Linked DNA regions of Homo sapiens: regions 1 and 3 are each linked to region 2. Evidence: fine-mapped expression QTL. A gene starts in region 2. Each other region holds a variant in brackets. All regions are shown on one strand. Distances are between the middles of the regions. Region 1 overlaps ZZEF1 (zinc finger ZZ-type and EF-hand domain containing 1). Region 2 holds the start of CAMKK1 (calcium/calmodulin dependent protein kinase kinase 1). Region 3 overlaps CAMKK1 (calcium/calmodulin dependent protein kinase kinase 1).

The links. PIP is the estimated chance that this variant, and not a neighbour inherited with it, causes the effect.
Region 1: its variant is fine-mapped to the expression of CAMKK1 in stomach (GTEx, PIP 0.97).
Region 3: its variant is fine-mapped to the expression of CAMKK1 in whole blood (TOPMed, PIP 0.97).

Annotation. Positions count from the first base shown.
Region 1 is chr17:4,056,950-4,059,706 of GRCh38, forward strand. ZZEF1 (zinc finger ZZ-type and EF-hand domain containing 1) reads right to left here. Exons shown (of 55, transcript NM_015113.4): 31 at 2,222-2,341; 32 at 1,045-1,206. Among named protein-coding and RNA genes, the nearest start is that of LINC01975, 81 kb to the left of the region's middle. The variant C/T (reference allele first, on the strand shown) is at 1,611.
Region 2 is chr17:3,891,558-3,894,314 of GRCh38, forward strand. It overlaps CAMKK1 (calcium/calmodulin dependent protein kinase kinase 1), which reads right to left and starts at 1,496. Exons shown (of 16, transcript NM_032294.3): 1 at 1,382-1,496. RefSeq lists silencers at 803-1,052, 1,193-1,372, 1,403-1,942.
Region 3 is chr17:3,871,184-3,873,940 of GRCh38, forward strand. CAMKK1 (calcium/calmodulin dependent protein kinase kinase 1) reads right to left here. Exons shown (of 16, transcript NM_032294.3): 11 at 2,226-2,279; 12 at 1,371-1,444. Among named protein-coding and RNA genes, the nearest start is that of CAMKK1, 20 kb to the right of the region's middle. The variant T/C (reference allele first, on the strand shown) is at 1,371.

The sequences.
Region 1 (2,757 bases), 170 kb after region 2:
ATAATTTCAGTTTACAGCTCGTTTTAACAAATAGAACTTTAAACAGAAAAAGATTTGCTTAAGAGCAAATACAAAATATTTACCAAGCTACAAATACACATTCATTCATTCATGCATTCCAACGAAATGGTTTTGGGCCTACACTCATACTCAAGCTTTGCGCTCGGTGCCACGGGGGCTTGCTGTAAAGGGCGCGCTTCCTTCCCTGAGGACTGTGGCGTGCGGGGAGACAAAGCGAGAAACCGCGAGCAGGCCCACAGCCAAGATCCACAGGCTCATGCCCCCTAGTGCTGCCCCGCCTCTGCCAACGGAGCTCCAACAGCGAGGCGACAGCTGAGGTTCGTGAACTAAAGAGACGGCTCTAATTCTGTCCCCTTTTCCCTTGGAACCGCTCTCCTGAGAGAGTGGAGACTGTCCTGGTGTTGACTCATTCACTTCTTCCCACTTCTCTCCTCTTAGTGCATTCCCCCTCCCCTTCTCCTCTTTTCTACACATGAATGGCCACGAATAGGGAAGTGGATTTGAGTAGAGTGGAGAGATACGGGCCAAATCGGAGGGAAAAAACCCTTCATACATGACTTTTTTCTAACTGAGGTCCTTATAATGTGCAAGAAGTTAGAGTGGCTAACATAACATATACATGTAACAAAAATTATGGAAAGGATTTCCCAATTCAGCAAGCTATACTAAGATCACCAAAATGCAGAGGATTCTCGGCCTCAGAGCTCACGAGTTCACCACCACCAATGTACATAGCTCTACTGCATGCCAGACGCGGTTCTAAACACTGAAATACATAACTCAGGTACTCATCACAACAAGCCTCGGAGGCAGCACCATTGTTATCTCCAGCTCTGAAGATGAGGAAACTGAGGCACAGAGGGATTATAAGACTTGCGCAAGGCCACTCGGCTAGGATGTGGCAAAGCCAAGATATGACACAGACAGTCTAGCTCCGGAGTCTGTGCTCTTAACGCCCCCACTATGTTCCTTGCGTTTCATAACCTACATTAGGAACTGCAGAGCGCAGGACCGTGCTCTTACCTGATCACACTGTCATGGACACTTATATTCTCCTGTGACATTTTCATGAGGAGATCTGGTAACTGAATATCAACAAAGAAGGCGAGATCATTGGGTTCCCAGCCCATATCCAAAAGATGAAGCAGGGCTGTCTGAACACAGGATAAGGCAGGGAGCAAGGACCTAAAGGGCCATGAAAGTGACCATTAGCAGAGCTGCTTACTCCCAACAGAGGCAACAGAAGCAATTCAAGTAGGTGACCTGGTTTGCAATTGAAAGCAGAAGGGAACTTCACATTGCTGGTTTGGGTTCCTTTCAAATTCCTCATACTCCACACAAACATCCTTCAAAGCTTACACAAAATAACTCTGAAAAGTGTAAAGTAAGGTTTCCACCCTGCCAGGACCACCACAGGGGTATCTTATGGTAAAGAACTGAGAAGTGAAAATCACTTTCTGATAAACTGCAAGATCAGGGCCAGCTCCAAATTAGCCAAGGTTATGCAGTTTAGATTTACCGAAGAATCATTTGATTTAAGGCTTATGTCTAAACCATTTACTAAGAGGACTGGGAAATGGCTTTATACT[C/T]GTTTTCAAACTGTACATAATACATAATATACTGGCTGGGCGTGGTGGCTCATGACTGTAATTCCAGCACTTTGGGAGGCCGAGGCAGGCAGACTGCTTGAGCCCAGGAGCTCAAGGCCAGCCTGAGCAACATGGCAAAATCCCGTTTCTACAAAACATAAAGAAAATTAGCCGGGCATGGTGGCATGCACCTGCAGTCCCAACTACTTAGGAAGCTGAGGTGAGTAGATCAATTGAGCCTGGGAGGTCCAGGCTGCAGTGAGCCACAATTGAGTCACTGCACTCTAGCCTGGGTGACAGCATGAGGCCGTCTCAAAACAAACCAAAAAATCCCTAATATACCAAAACAGAAAATAATAGGCTATAAATTCTTAGAAAAACCCAGACTCATCCCCTTAAAAAGAAAATATACACACCAGACAGAAAAAGGACTGGGAGAAAATATACGAATAAGTTAACATTAGTGATTAGCTCTCTAGGTGGTAACATTAGAGGTTATTTTTATTTTATTCTTTGTGCTTTTTGGTATTTTTGACAGTGAACATATATTTCTTTTATAATCAGAAAAAAATACATTTTTTTTCTCTAGAAATGATAAAGTTATCCAGTACCTGTCATTTAGGCTACTAAATCCTTTAACTGCTTTGACCAAAAACAGAACAAGTTGATAGTAAGTGTCTCGAATTTCTTTGTGTAGATCAGCACCACAGCCTTCCAGGTGTCCAAAATAACTAGAAACAGAGGAAATCACTGATTCACTTAATTGCCAGAACATCTTTTTCTTAATAATAATAATGATTTCTTACATGAAAAAGAGCAAGTGGCAGTCAGCTGAGCAAAGCGGCACAGGAACTTAAGTAAATACAAATATAATACCTATAGAAGGTAACACACAAAACAGCAAGTGAGTCCCTCTGACGGGCTCAAGAGAGTTACCCAGAAGCATGGAGATGAGATTATTTATCTTCTTTGTGAATATAAACCCATCCCTCCCACCACTACTTGGGTGCCAGATACTGTGTTAAGTATTTTTCACAAATGACCTCATTTGATCCTCTCCACACAATCACGCTCACCCCTCTGCCTCCCTTCATTGATGACTTTGGCACCAGCCTCACTGTCTTTTCTACCATGATCCTGGCCATCT
Region 2 (2,757 bases):
CAGTATGAAGAACAGCAGGGAGGCTGACGTGGCTGGAGTGGAGTCTTCCCCACATAAGAGGCACCTGATAGCAAGAGGAGTTACATCTGGAGAGAAAGCCCCCTCACTCATTGTGCTGGCCTCAGGGATGGCTTCCTAGAGGAGGTGGCACCTGAGCTCTCTTCTGAGCACTGAGCAGGATTTCAGGATGAGGCGAGGATGGAAGTTTGCACTGTGCATATAGGAGAGTCATTTCCTGGCTGGGACTCCGGGCTTGGTTTGGGGGTGGGGAGAGCTTGGTGGACAGAGCCCAGGAGGCCCCCAAAGCCAGGGGGAGGTTGTGAGCAGGGGAGTGCCTCGGTTAGGTGAGGTTTAAAACGACTCCCATGGCTGCTGTGAGGACTGACGGTGGGAGACCGAGGAAGAGGCGAAGGGTCCCCAGAGTGTGTGCGCCTGGGACGCAGTGGGGGGTCAATTTGTATGTACTGGAGGAAAGAGGGCAGGGCTTGGGGAGGCCAGCGCCACTTCCCTGGGATCCTCCAGCGCGCACAGGCTGTGTGCCCCTCCCACACTCCTGTGCCCGCCCTGCGGACACCACCAAGGCCCGGTCCTGTGGCCTGTGACACAGCCTTCTCTGCACAGCCCTGCAACGCCAAGACTTGAGCACACCCCCTCCCCTGACAGGCACACGCCCGTGTCCGCGTGACCCGCCCTCACACACCACTCCATCCTGTCCTGCACCCCCCACGCAGACACAGGCACACTCCCGCGTCCACGTGACACACGCACACCCGCCTCCAAACAGCACACGCAGGTCCCTGCGCACGTGGACACCCCCCCAGCCACCAGCCCTGCGCCTCCCGGGCCCCGAAGCCGCAGCGCCCGCCTCTGCCGCCCCCTCTCGCCCCAGCCAAGGCAGGACCCTGCGCAGCCTGAGCCGCGCGCCGCCGCCGCCCCATTCATCTCCCACCCCGCCCCCGGCTCCTGCAGGAAGACGCTCCGGCGGGCCGTGGGAGGAGCGCTCCGCGGAGAACCGCACGTGGGTGCCCCGGGCCGGGCCCACTCCGCACAGACGTGGCCTCCACCAGGAGCCGGGCGCGGGGGACAGTGCACCGGGGATGGATGCGGTCCGCAGACAGAAGCGGGGAAGAACGCAGACGGCGGGGCACCCGCGGCGATGCGGTCCCGGCGGCCGGCGCAGACCCGAGCAGACTCCGCGAGGCACCCCGCAGACCCGGCCCCGCAGACAGAAGGGGAAGGATCCCCGCCCTGACCAGATCCCAGCTCCCTCGTAGACGCGGCCTGGCAGACCCCCCCCGCCTCTCCCTTGCAGGCTCGGGGCAGGTGTTAAGGCGTTCGTCCTCCTGCTCCTCGCCCGCGTCCCCGCCCCGCCGATCCCTACCTGGGCGCCGGGCGACAGTGTCCGCGGCCCGGCGGGCGGCCCCACTCGCTCCTGCTGCGCGCCCCGCCCCGCCCCGCCCCGCCCCACCGCCTCGCTGGGGCCCAGATCGCCGAGCTCAGCCCGCGGGCGCCGCGGCTCCGGGCAGCGCTCGCTGCCCCGCCCACCGCCGCGCCCGGCCGGCGCTCATTGGTCGGAGCGAACGGCCCCGCCAGCGCCGCCCAATCGGAGCCCGGGACTCCCGCCCCCTCCTGGACTAAGGGACCGCGGTGGGCGGCGCGGTAGGGGCCCTCCCTCCCCTGCGGCGGGGCCGACCTCGCCACGCCCCCGGCGTCCTGGGGTCCCCGAAGTCCCTCCCGGCCGCGGCGTGGGCCCTTCTCCTGGGCCTGCAGGGGACCGTGCTTCCCCGCCAAACCCTTTGCGCCCCCATCCCGGCCTGCAGGAGCCAGAGCGCCCCTCCCTCCCGGGCGAGGCGCGGTGCGTGCGAGGGAGGGGCGAGGCCCGGGGAGGAAGGCCTTGAATGGCAGGCCCAGGAGTGTAGCTTCTGCGGGGCGGGGGCAGAGAGGCCGAGAGGTGGCTTAGCACAGAGTGAAGTGCTTGCTCGGTGAGCCGGCGACAGGAATGGCCTAGCGAGGGCCGAGGGAGTAGAGGGAACTCAGCAGGACAGTGAGGTGACCTTCGCTGTGGCTGTTCCTGGGGACTCTGCCGCCACCTCTTCCCCTAACGCCTCCGCGTGTGAATCCTCTGGCACCACCACTTGCCCCATATCCTTCCCCCAAATCTAACCTCCTGCGTCCCTGTCTCGAAGTGGAGCCAGGAGCCTGGGAGTCACCTGCTGCCTCCCTGTTTCCTGCTCCAACCAGTCCATCTCCAGGCCCTGCCATACTGCCTCTTAACTATCCCTGGAATCGGCCCACTCCTCTCCACCCCACTTCCCCTCCCTTAGCTCAGGCTACCACCATCTTGTCCCTGATTGCTGCAGCAGCCTCCTCCCTGGCCTCCAGCCCCATCCAGTCTCACCTCCTACTAGCCTTTCTCTCCCTGGCACCCAGAGCAAGTTTTCAGGAACACAAGTCCACCGAGAGGCATTTTCTATGGCTCACCGTGAGAATAGGTCTAATCAAGCCCTGTATAGCCTTACTCCCAGCCACCTGCCTGTTTAACGCCTACTCGTCTTTCAGGGTTCAATTCAATCCTACTTCTGCCTGGAAACCTTCTCCATGACCTCCCCACTTCCAGCATGGGTTAGTGGCCCCACCCAGGTACTTCCTTGTACCTGGCATCTGTTTACCTGCTGGTTCCTCATTGGGACTGGGAGCTCCTGGATGGCAAGCACTGTGCCTGATTCGTCCAGCACACAGCCTGTCGCATGGCACAGG
Region 3 (2,757 bases), 20 kb before region 2:
GGCAAGGGGTATAAGTGGCAACAAGGCCCAGAGACAGGGAAGAGGAGGGCTCAGCAGGGCTTGGGGACCACACAGGAAATAAGCAGAAGAGAGCAGGAGTCGCTGAGTACAAGTCCCGTTTCATTTTCTTTTTTTGTTTGTTGTTTTTTGTTTTTTTTTTTTTGTTTTTTTTTTTTTTTTTTTTTTTTTGAGACAGAGTCTCGCTCTGTCGCCCAGGCTGGAGTGCAGTAGCACGGTCTCAGCTCACTGAAACCTCTGCCTCCCGGGTTCACGCCGTTCTCCTGCCTCAGCCTCTCGAGTAGCTGGGACTACAGGCACCCGCCACCACGCCCGGCTAATTTTTTTTCTATTTTTAGTAGAGATGGGGTTTCACCGTGTTAGCCAGGATGGTCTCGATCTCCTGACCTCGTGATCCGCCCTCCTTGGCCTCCCAAAGTGCTGGAATTACAGGTGTGAGCCGCCGCACCCGGCCTTATTCAGTTTCTTTCTTCTGTTTTTTTTTTTTGAGACAGAGTCTTGCTCTGTCGCCCAGGCTCACTGCAACCTCTGCCTCCTGGGTTCAAGCAATTCTCGTGCTTCAGCCTCCCGAGTAGCTGGGACTACAGATGTGCGCCACCACGCCTGGCTAATTTTTGTATTTTTAGTAGAGATGGGGTTTCACCATGTTGGCCAGGCTGGTCTCTAACTCCTAACCTCAGGTGATCTGCCCACCTCAGCCTCCCAAAGTGCTGGGATTACAGGCGTGAGCCACCGCACCCGGCCTCCATTTCACTCCTGAAATCCACTGCTGAAAAGAGGAGCCTGGGAGCTCAGGCTGTGGCTGCCACGGTGGCCGTCATGAGGCGAACCATGCATGAGCAAGAGGCCTCCCCGACGTCCCTGCTACGCTCAGAGACCTCGGTCACAATGGGAAGAGTGGGGAGGAAGAGTGGCTTGAGTCCCAGCCCCCTGACCGCTCTCCTCCAGAGCATCCTCTTTTCCATCTGTGAAATGGGGAGCACGCACTGGCATCTTGAAGTTCCCTGACCCTGAGTGGGGGAAGGAGAAGTTCCCCTTGAGTCCAGGGGCTGGGTGGGGCTGGCGCCACTGACCCCAGGCAGGCCTGCGGTGAAGGAGTGGTGTGAATGATGCCTGTGGTCATCCCTGGCCAACCCTGGATCTCAGGGTTCCCATCCACACAGTGACGTTGCGGAGACCCTTGGCTCCAGAGTCCCTCCCGTCCATCTATTCAGGGGTCCCTCCCAGGGAACAGCACCGCCACCTTCATATCTGCAGGCTGGGGTGGGGTCCTCAGAGGGCAAAAGCTCTGCTAAAACTCAGACACCAGGAGCGGGTGGTAGCCCCCTTGTTCCCCTGGGTGGACAACTCAC[T/C]CCTCAGGAAACACCACGGGCTCATTCTTGATCTTCCTGTGGAGGGCCAGGATGAAATCGTCGATGAATGGGCACTGTGGGGTGGAGAGGCAGACAAAGGATGTGGGTCCAGGGCCTCGACCTGTGCCAGGGGATCAACCCCCCTCCCTTGGTGGGGGCAGGGGTAGGGGGCAGGTCTGGGCTCCCATTACATGAGAAGGACCTCAACTCACACTGTAAATGTTCAACAAATGTTGACTGAATGAATGAGTTGCTGAGGGAACAATGAGGCTGGGTGCATCCACCGCCGTTACTGCCACCCGCGGCCAGGCCAGGCCAGGCTGGGTGCACCCACCACCATTACCGCCACCTGTGGCCAGGCCTCCACTCCCAGGGCCTGGGGCTTGGGAACATGTTCACTGAAATTCCCCCCTGCCCCTTAGTGTGGTCACCAGAGCAGGCACACCTGCGGGCAGGGATCACCGATACGTCAGCGTTGGGTGTCCCCAGGGTCCAGCCTCAGCCAGGGTAGGGGTGAAGGACAATTTGTCGAATAAATGAGCAAGGGAGTGAACACATGGCTCAATAAGTGAATGGCGTCAAGGGACAGAGGGACGGGGAGCACTCTGGCTGGGGCGGTGGCAACACCATCGTCGGCACCTCCCCTTAGGTGTCTGCTGTCCTGCGACTCCTTCGCGAGAATCGCTCCGCAGGGGACCAGAGAAAGATAGAAAAAGCCTCTTCTCTCTCAGCCTTCTCTGAGCCAGGTGGGCTCTTTCAAAAGCCACTTAAGGACAAAAAGGAAGAGCCTGCATCCGTCGCCCGTGCCCGCCTCACTGGACCCGCCCCAGCTCTGCTGGCATCCCTGGCACTCACCTTCCCATAGACAAAGCAGTACAACGTGACGCCAGTGGCCCATACATCCAAGGCCTGGAAAGAAACATGCTCACATCAGTCCCCAACAGGCACAGCCACCTCTGCCCACCCAGCTCCAGCGGGCTGCAGGAGAGGCCTGCAGGGAACCTCTTTCCTCTGTCATGCACTCACTCGACAAACACTCCGCGGTACTTGCCCGATGCTGGGCCCCGTGCTGAGTGCTGAGGACACAGGGGCGGCCAGAACAAGGCCTCCACCCTCCAGGGGTTCTGGATTTCCTTGGGAAAGACTCTAACCAGGTACGTTTCCAACTCAACAGGTACAAAACCTCCTTCATCCAGAGGGTCACACGGGCCGCTCCCGTGCCACAGACGCACCCCAGGAATGATGGTATATATGGAACTTCTGCTCACTAAACCAGCTCGGGCTTCAAGGAGTCATCCCTTCTCCTCATAATCCACCTTCTTCCTGATATTGCAAACAGCCCCTGCCCACACAGAGGCCCTGTCCTCTCACGCCCTCATCCACCGCC